Linked DNA regions of Homo sapiens. The protein of the gene in region 2 purifies or fractionates together with the protein of the main gene of each other region. This does not show direct contact. Each region holds a gene or a part of one and is shown on either strand. Other genes may lie near its edges. The genes, in order: AKAP13 and PRKCH.

Region 1 (3,824 bases), on a different chromosome or scaffold from region 2:
TAGAGTTCTCAAATCTTTCCTTTGTACTTTCCCCTCCCTGAAGCACATTCTTCCAAACAGTGGCATCTGGGTTCATGAGCCCATGTTCCATTTCCCCTGCAGTGTCTGGGGTACTGACATTTGTTGTTGAAATGCCTCCCAGTTCACCTCCAGAGGAATACTGGGCTGTGCCTGGCTCCATGACCAAGTCTCTCTGAAGCACAGCATCTCCACTGCTCAGGGACTCCTGGTCTGTGGGCATTCCAGAAGATTTTGTTCCAGTTTCTTCATTTCTGTTTCCACAGGACGAAAGGCCTTCCGTGCCCTTTACTCCACAATCAGGCAAGCTCTGAAGGCAGCTGTCTTGATCAGATACAGTTCCAGAGTCCACAATAGGTGCTGGCTCCACCTCTTCCCCTTTTCTTTCCACGCCTTTATTTTTCTTCCTACAGGAACGGTCTGTATTCTCCTCCTCAACTATGCTTGACAAATCACAGGGACTTTCAGTCTGTGCAACAGGGCTCCCTGGGCAGCACTGAGTGCTCTCAGTCTCTTCAGAAGAAGAAAGTCGCTGAGGGTCCGTGGGCTCCGGTGCACAGGGAAGAAACTGGCCATCTGTCTCTGGGGCACTGGAAGGATCCTGTGCTGTCATCATTAAGGGCATAAGACTGTCCATCTGCTTGAGGTTTGTTTTCTAGGAGGAAATGAAATACACTTTTAAAAAACTGCCTGTAGGAGAAGATGTCACTGACACCTCTGAGCAAAAATTCTGTTGGACAGAACTCACTTCTATTCTAGCTCTTCTAAGGTCACATGATAAGCGAATCTAAAAGAATACAAATAAATTTCCTCTTATTTCTGATATTACTTTCCTTTCATATCTGCCTATATACTGGGATGTTCAAAATAGATTAGGATATATGAAATATCTATTTTCTAAATTTTGAACTTATTTTAGGAAGTAGATGAAAACTGAGTCTCGCCGGGCATGGTGGCTCATGCCTGTAATCCCAGCACTTTGGGAGGCTGAGGCAGGCAGATCACCTGAGGTCAGGAGTTCGAGACCAGCCTCAACATGGAGAAACCCTGTCTCTACTAAAAATACAAAATTAGCTGGGCGTAGTGGTGCATGCCTGTAATCTCAGCTACTTGGGAGGCTGAGGCAGGAGAATTGCTTGTACCCGGGAGGCGGAGGTTGCAGTGAGCCGAGACAGCACCACTGCACTCCAGCCTGGGCAATAAGAGCAAAACTCCGTCTTAAAAAAAATAAAAATAAAAGAGTCTCAAAAACCTGATTTTTAAAAAGCTCAGTGAATATCTTCAATTGAGCTGCTAACATTAAGGTGGGCTCTCTCATTCTGAGGCCAGGCTGAAGTGCAGTGGTGTGATCACAGCTCACCGCAGCCTTGAACTCCTGGGCTCAAGTGACCCTGCCGCCTCAGCCTCTTCAGTAGCTAGGACTACAGGTGTGCACCATTGCACCTGACTAATTGTTTTATTTTTTGTAGAGACGGGGTCTCACTATGTTGCCCAGGCTGTTCTCCAACACCTGAGCCTATGGGATCCTCCTACCTTGGTCTCCCAAAGTGCTGGGATTATAGGGCCTACACCACTGTGTCCCACCTATATTTTTCATTGTCTTCAGAAGGGCAGAGTCTACTTACACCCTGCCTCATATATACAAGTAAAAACAAATCCTAGCTCTTTTCCATTACAAGGTGCAGCCAATGTGCCTGTGCCCTAAATACTTACTGAGTTCAGTGTCCTTTAATCCCCAAAATATGTTCCAACCAATCTAACTTAACCATCGAGTTATGGGGTCATAATTTCAGGAACAGTGGCATGGCAGATATTCTTTCACCTTTTGATAAAATCAGAACATATTAAATATAAAATAAATGAGAACATATACCTATATACTGTCAGAGTATATTATGGATACTATATGTAATCTCAAAAATGGATTTTGCAACTTTAAAGTATTTAAAAAATATAAACAGATATAACCAACAGCATGGGAATGATTAAGAAAATCAAGGTTCATAAAACTGATGGAAGAAATACTAGCCATTATTAACTATGAGGACCATATTGCAATTAGAAAAAAATTATTAATCTAAGTTTATAAATATGCAAAAATCCCATGTGCATGCAGCAAGGTTTAAAATGGAGAAAAACAAATACAGGTGATCTTTAGTGATTTTACCTTTATATCAAAATTTCAAAAATTCTTATAAAAATATTTTCTCAACACCTAAAATCTATTTTTCCAAACATCTGGTTTGCTCGCCATTCATTCATTACCTGATCTACTGCAATAATATGCATACCTACTGCCATCCATCCTCTCATTCACCTACTCACTCAGTGAATATATTGGGCACTTACAGGGTTCCATCATCAGACCATTCCTATCTACCTACTGAGCCTATTGTAAAAGTTTATATGTACAAGTGTAAAATGTGTCATGCTTGTTAAAGTCTTTCTAGTAGAGTGTACAAGCAAAATGGACTTTCACTAAAAGCTTCTGTGTTAGGCTCCTTAAGAGTATTCAAAATTAGCTTATTTCCAGTCCTGCTGAGAGTACGACAGTCTCCTAAAAATCAGGAAATGAAGTCATTAAATTTAATAAATGGTAAACATTATAAAACAGAAATCTGGCGAAACAAGTAGTGTTGCCTAAAGAAAGTAGCACATGTATGTTCCCACAGTTTTAATTTCTCGTATTTGCCTGCCAACCATTTCCATATCTTGGCAGGTAGCTTTGGTACCTGCAAAACTATATTTTCAAGTGAACTACCATTCACCTAGTAAAAAGAGCTCTAAGGAAAAACCTGATTGCCTAGAAGTCCATTCAGAGGAAAATGAAATGTCACGTGCTCTGGAACAAACACAATTCTAAAACACAAAAGTGGGAGCATCACATAACCCTATGGAATTTCTTGGCTTGCTGGTCTCAAATAATGCATGCTCCCAAAGAAGCCTCTGGCATTGAGCTGACCTTAAATGAAATTACTGTCCAGTGGTTTCCAAATCAAATCAGCTCTGAAATAAACTGGGTGGAAAAATTACCTAAACACAGCCTTTCAGATGTTATGCCCAAGAGAGATGTACACATATGACGTTTATGTTATTCGTAATAAATGCTAACAGGGAGTCTGTAATGTTTTTATGTCTGGCAACAACTTTATCTTGAAGACTTGAGTGGATTATAAAATCTTTTCTGTTTTTTTTAGCTATCTTTGTACCATACAACTATTGATTTAAATATAGTAACACTATATTTAAATGGTACATATCATCGCCACTAAAATAGTTGTAAAAATACTCCTGATTAAATTTGGTTCTTGTTCTTTGGCAACAATCTCAGAAACTGTTGGTTCTTTCATTTTGTAAAGTTAAGCCAAACACAGACAAATATCCTTTTATGCCAGAAATTTAGTTCTAGTTGTTGCATATTTCTGTACCTGAAATGTGTGTCTTCCATTATTCCCAAAACCAATGAAAAAAACCTCTCAGTCCCCCTACGGCTACAACCTTAATGCTAGCTCTGATCTGTAAGTGGTAACATTTAATACTGCTAATACTGCTTTACAGGTCTCAGAATCTTTGGGGAAAGTCCTTCTTTTTCTGTTTTTGAGACAAGGTCTTGCTCTGTCACCCCGGCAGGAGTGCAGTGGTGTCATCTCAGCTCACTGCAACCTCTGCCTCCCAGGCTCACATGATCTGCCTGCCTCAGACCCCCAAGTAGCTGGGACTATAGGCGTACGCCACCATGCCCAGCTAACTTCTGTAGAGCCAGAGTTTCTCCATGTTGCCCAGGCTGGTCTCAAACTCCTGAGCTC
Region 2 (3,824 bases):
ACTGACCCAAATTACATGTACTTTATTTTCAACATAAAGGCGTCCAGTACATGTTTATCCTCAATTCAAAGGCATCCAGCACAGTGCCTTAAATGCACACACAGAAAAGACTTTCTCAACATGATCCATTACAACATTGCACCTGCAGCCTGGGCGTGGCACCCGGCTTTCATAAGAATAACATGGAGGCAAAATAGATCTGCAGAGGTTTGGAAAACCTTCCTTCTCCTCTCCCAGCCCTAAGAGAAAGACCCGACCGCTTCATCCTGCAACTTGAAGATGCCAACAGAAACACAATTGATATAATAACAGGCTGGGAATGGCATTTACTTGACCCAAAACTCTGGTGTGGCCTGACTGTATGAAGGGGAAACATCACCTGCCCTCAACTAAAGTTACGAAGTGCTAGAAATACTTGCTATTTGGCAAACAAAGTTATCAAGGGCTATTGAAATTGACCCCAAAATAACTACTGCATAAGAGAGGGTCTATTGCATAAGAGAGGGTAACAGCCTGACAGAACTCTGGTTCTTTGATTCTTTAGATTAGAACAATACAAATTTTAGTTAGAGCTAGTGGTTTACTGGTGGGAAGTACTGAAAAGACTCAAGCAGCACATGAAACAAGCTGGTTTGCAATACATCAGAAGCTAGCTGGGTAAGCCAAACTTACAGATTTTAGGATCCCTGTGGCATCTTCATGGAGCCAGGTAGGGTAGACCACCTCATCATTCAGTATGGCCTCAAAGAGGTCATCTTCGTTCTCTGCCTCAAAAGGCGCGTGACCACAGAGCATCTCATAGAGCAACACGCCCATTGCCCACCAGTCTACTGCAGGCCCGTACAGCATTTCCTGGAGGATCTGTGCAAAGGGGGCAGCGTGAGAAGGTGGTTCATACATCAGATTAACAAATGTGTTCTTCATAACTAGGGAAATTGATGCATTAGGAAATATCAAAGTTTTTTTAAAAAAGTCTCCTGTGCTAGCAAGCGTATTTCATTCCATTTCTACAGAGTGGTCTGTTTTCCCTGTGGTCAACTCAGAGGTGCCTTCTCATCTAGGTGAGCAAATATTTATGGCCTGATTGGGCCACTGTGATGGGCTCGTGCAGATCCCAAACAGAAAGGGTTCTGGAAATATATCAGTCTGGAAAAAAAAGGGGACTGGGTTCACTCACTCATACGGGAAGGATTCAAGGATTCAAGAGCCTTTCTTTAGTTCTGCTAAATGACGCTGAAATTAAATCACTAAGTAGAGACAAAAAGGAAAATAAATAGCCATGAATGGCGTACACTTTGTCTTCATTTAGGGCTAAAGCCCAAAGCAACTGCAAAGTTTACATATATATATATATTTTTTTTTATTATACTTTAAGTTTTAGGGTACATGCGCACATTGTGCAGGTTAGTTACATATGTATACATGTGCCATGCTGGTGCGCTGCACCCACTAACTCGTCATCTAGCATTAGGTATATCTCCCAATGCTATCCCTCCCCCCTCCCCCCACCCCACCACAGTCCCCAGAGTGTGATATTCCCCTTCCTGTGTCCATGTGATCTCATCGTTCAATTCCCACCTATGAGTGAGAATATGCGGTGTTTGGTTTTTTGTTCTTGCGATAGTTTACTGAGAATGATGATTTCCAATTTCATCCATGTCCCTACAAAGGACATGAACTCACCATTTTTCATGGCTGCATAGTATTCCATGGTGTATATGTGCCACATTTTCTTAATCCAGTCTATCATTGTTGGACATTTGGGTTGGTTCCAAGTCTTTGCTATTGTGAATAATGCCGCAATAAACATACGTGTGCATGTGTCTTTATAGCAGCATGATTTTCTTTTTTAACTCAAATTCTTATTAGAGGGACTTAGGCCATTTTCAGCCATCATTCACCCAATGAGCCATAAATGAGTCTAGAGGTGTCGGCTCTAGACACCTTTCAATGCTGCCTCCAAAGCTGCAGTGCATAAAAGCAGCCAGTGGCATTTCTGGTCAGAGTTACTGGAGAGCTCAGATTTCAGAGCTGCATCAAGCAGCTGCACTCACCTCTGGAGCGATATAGTCTGGCGTGCCACAGAATGTGGCCGTGGTGACACCATTGCAAATCCCCTCCTTGCACATTCCGAAGTCTGCCAGTTTACAGTGACCCTCGTGGTCCAACAGGACATTGTCCAGTTTCAGATCTCTGAAAGATACAAAGAGCAGCACGAGATAGGGCAGCCAGACCCCAAACCATCCACCTCTCAGAATGGGCACACACACACACACACACACACACACACACACGTGCGGCCACATGCGGCCGCATGAGCTTCCTGTACACACGTCAAAAGGAACAAACTTCTCTGTGCTATCTGGATGACACATTTAGATCAAGTCTCAGAACTTGCCTCATGGCTCCAAGATGATGCGCCCATTAAGAATGGGCTGACCACAGGAAAATGTAGGCTGTCCTGTAAAAACGGAGGGCAGAATGTGGCTTTTCTAGGCTTTCCACTTACCTCATACTCAGCCTATACCCCATCCTCCACTCTAGCACCCATCTCTACCCATCGGAGTCAGAATGAACACCCATAGGGGAGGTGGCCACTGTGTGCCCGGGGTGGTGACAGGCACTAGGAGTACAGCTGATCTTCATCTGCAAGGAACTCACAGTGTAATGGGAGACAAATATTTGCTAGGCTAGAAGCTCCATGACGGCGGGGATTGTGTTTATGCGGTTCACCATTATGCCTGGCGCCATTATGCCTGGCATAATGTACTTAAGAAATACTTGTCGGCTGGGTGCCTGTAATCCCAACACTTTGGGAGGCTGAGGCAGGCAGATTGCTTGAGTTCAGGAGTTTGAAACTAGCCTGGACAACATGGGCAACATCCCAACCTACGAAAAATACAAAAATTAGTTGGGCATGGTGGCATGCACCTGTAGTCCCACATACTTGGGAGGCTGAGGTGGGAGGATTACTTGAGCCCAGGAGGTTGAGGCTGCAGTGAGCTGAGAGTGCATCACTGAACTCCAGCCTGGGCGACAGGGTGAGACCCTGTCTCTAAAATGAAAAGAGAAGAAAGAAATACTTTGTGTGTGTGTGTGTGTGTGTGTGTGTGTGTAAAACAAATAGATATATATTTCATATACAGACAGACACACACACACACATGGACAGGATAGACCAGGAGGGGTGGGGAGGGGGAACACACCAATTGCTGTATCATCCTAGTGGCACGATGAAGGTATGAACCAAGTGCTACGAGAGAAACATAAGAGAGAACAATTCCTTCTAGTGGGAGGAGAGAGAGACAGCCTCACAGCAGAAGCAGAAATTGAGCTGGGTCTGATAGCATGAGTCAGAGTCTCCCAGGCAGAGAAGGGGAGTGAGAAGGCCGCCATGGACAGGCGGATGGGGCAGGGACACGGCAGCAAGCCCAGCAGTATGGCTGTGCAGGTGGACTCAGAGAACCCTGGGTATGGTGGAGGAGGCTGAGGGGCGGGCAGCACAGGACAGAGGAGTGCTGGGGCCATGAAAAATCTCAGGGCTACAGAGGAAAGTTAAGTCCTTCAAACCATGAAGGGTCCTGAATGTCACACGAAGGAATTTTGATTTTTACATATTAGGCAAAAGGAACTCATTGATGCTCCCTCATTAAGGGAGTAACAGATTCCTGGCTGGACAAGAAAAGATCAGTTGGGGGAGGCTGAAACCGTCCAGGGAAGAGATGTTAAGACCTGAACCAGGACAGTGATGAATGGAATGGAAAATAAGGAGTTAGTCAGGGGAAAGGAAGCAGGGCTTCGGTGAAAGCAAAATCAGTAATAAG

The links.
Region 1: the proteins of PRKCH (region 2) and AKAP13 purify together in Homo sapiens (affinity purification with western blotting; one study listed by BioGRID). This does not show direct contact.

What each region holds. Positions count from the first base shown.
Region 1 is NC_000015.10:85,575,779-85,579,602, reverse strand, and holds part of AKAP13 (A-kinase anchor protein 13), read right to left. Parts: intron 674-3,824; coding exon 1-673. UniProt on the Homo sapiens protein: Scaffold protein that plays an important role in assembling signaling complexes downstream of several types of G protein-coupled receptors.
Region 2 is NC_000014.9:61,527,444-61,531,267, reverse strand, and holds part of PRKCH (protein kinase C eta type), read right to left. Parts: intron 2,462-3,824; coding exon of another isoform or gene 2,425-2,461; exon of another isoform or gene 2,410-2,424; intron 2,194-2,409; coding exon 2,055-2,193; intron 862-2,054; coding exon 673-861; intron 1-672. UniProt on the Homo sapiens protein: Calcium-independent, phospholipid- and diacylglycerol (DAG)-dependent serine/threonine-protein kinase that is involved in the regulation of cell differentiation in keratinocytes and pre-B cell receptor, mediates regulation of epithelial tight junction integrity and foam cell formation, and is required for glioblastoma proliferation and apoptosis prevention in MCF-7 cells.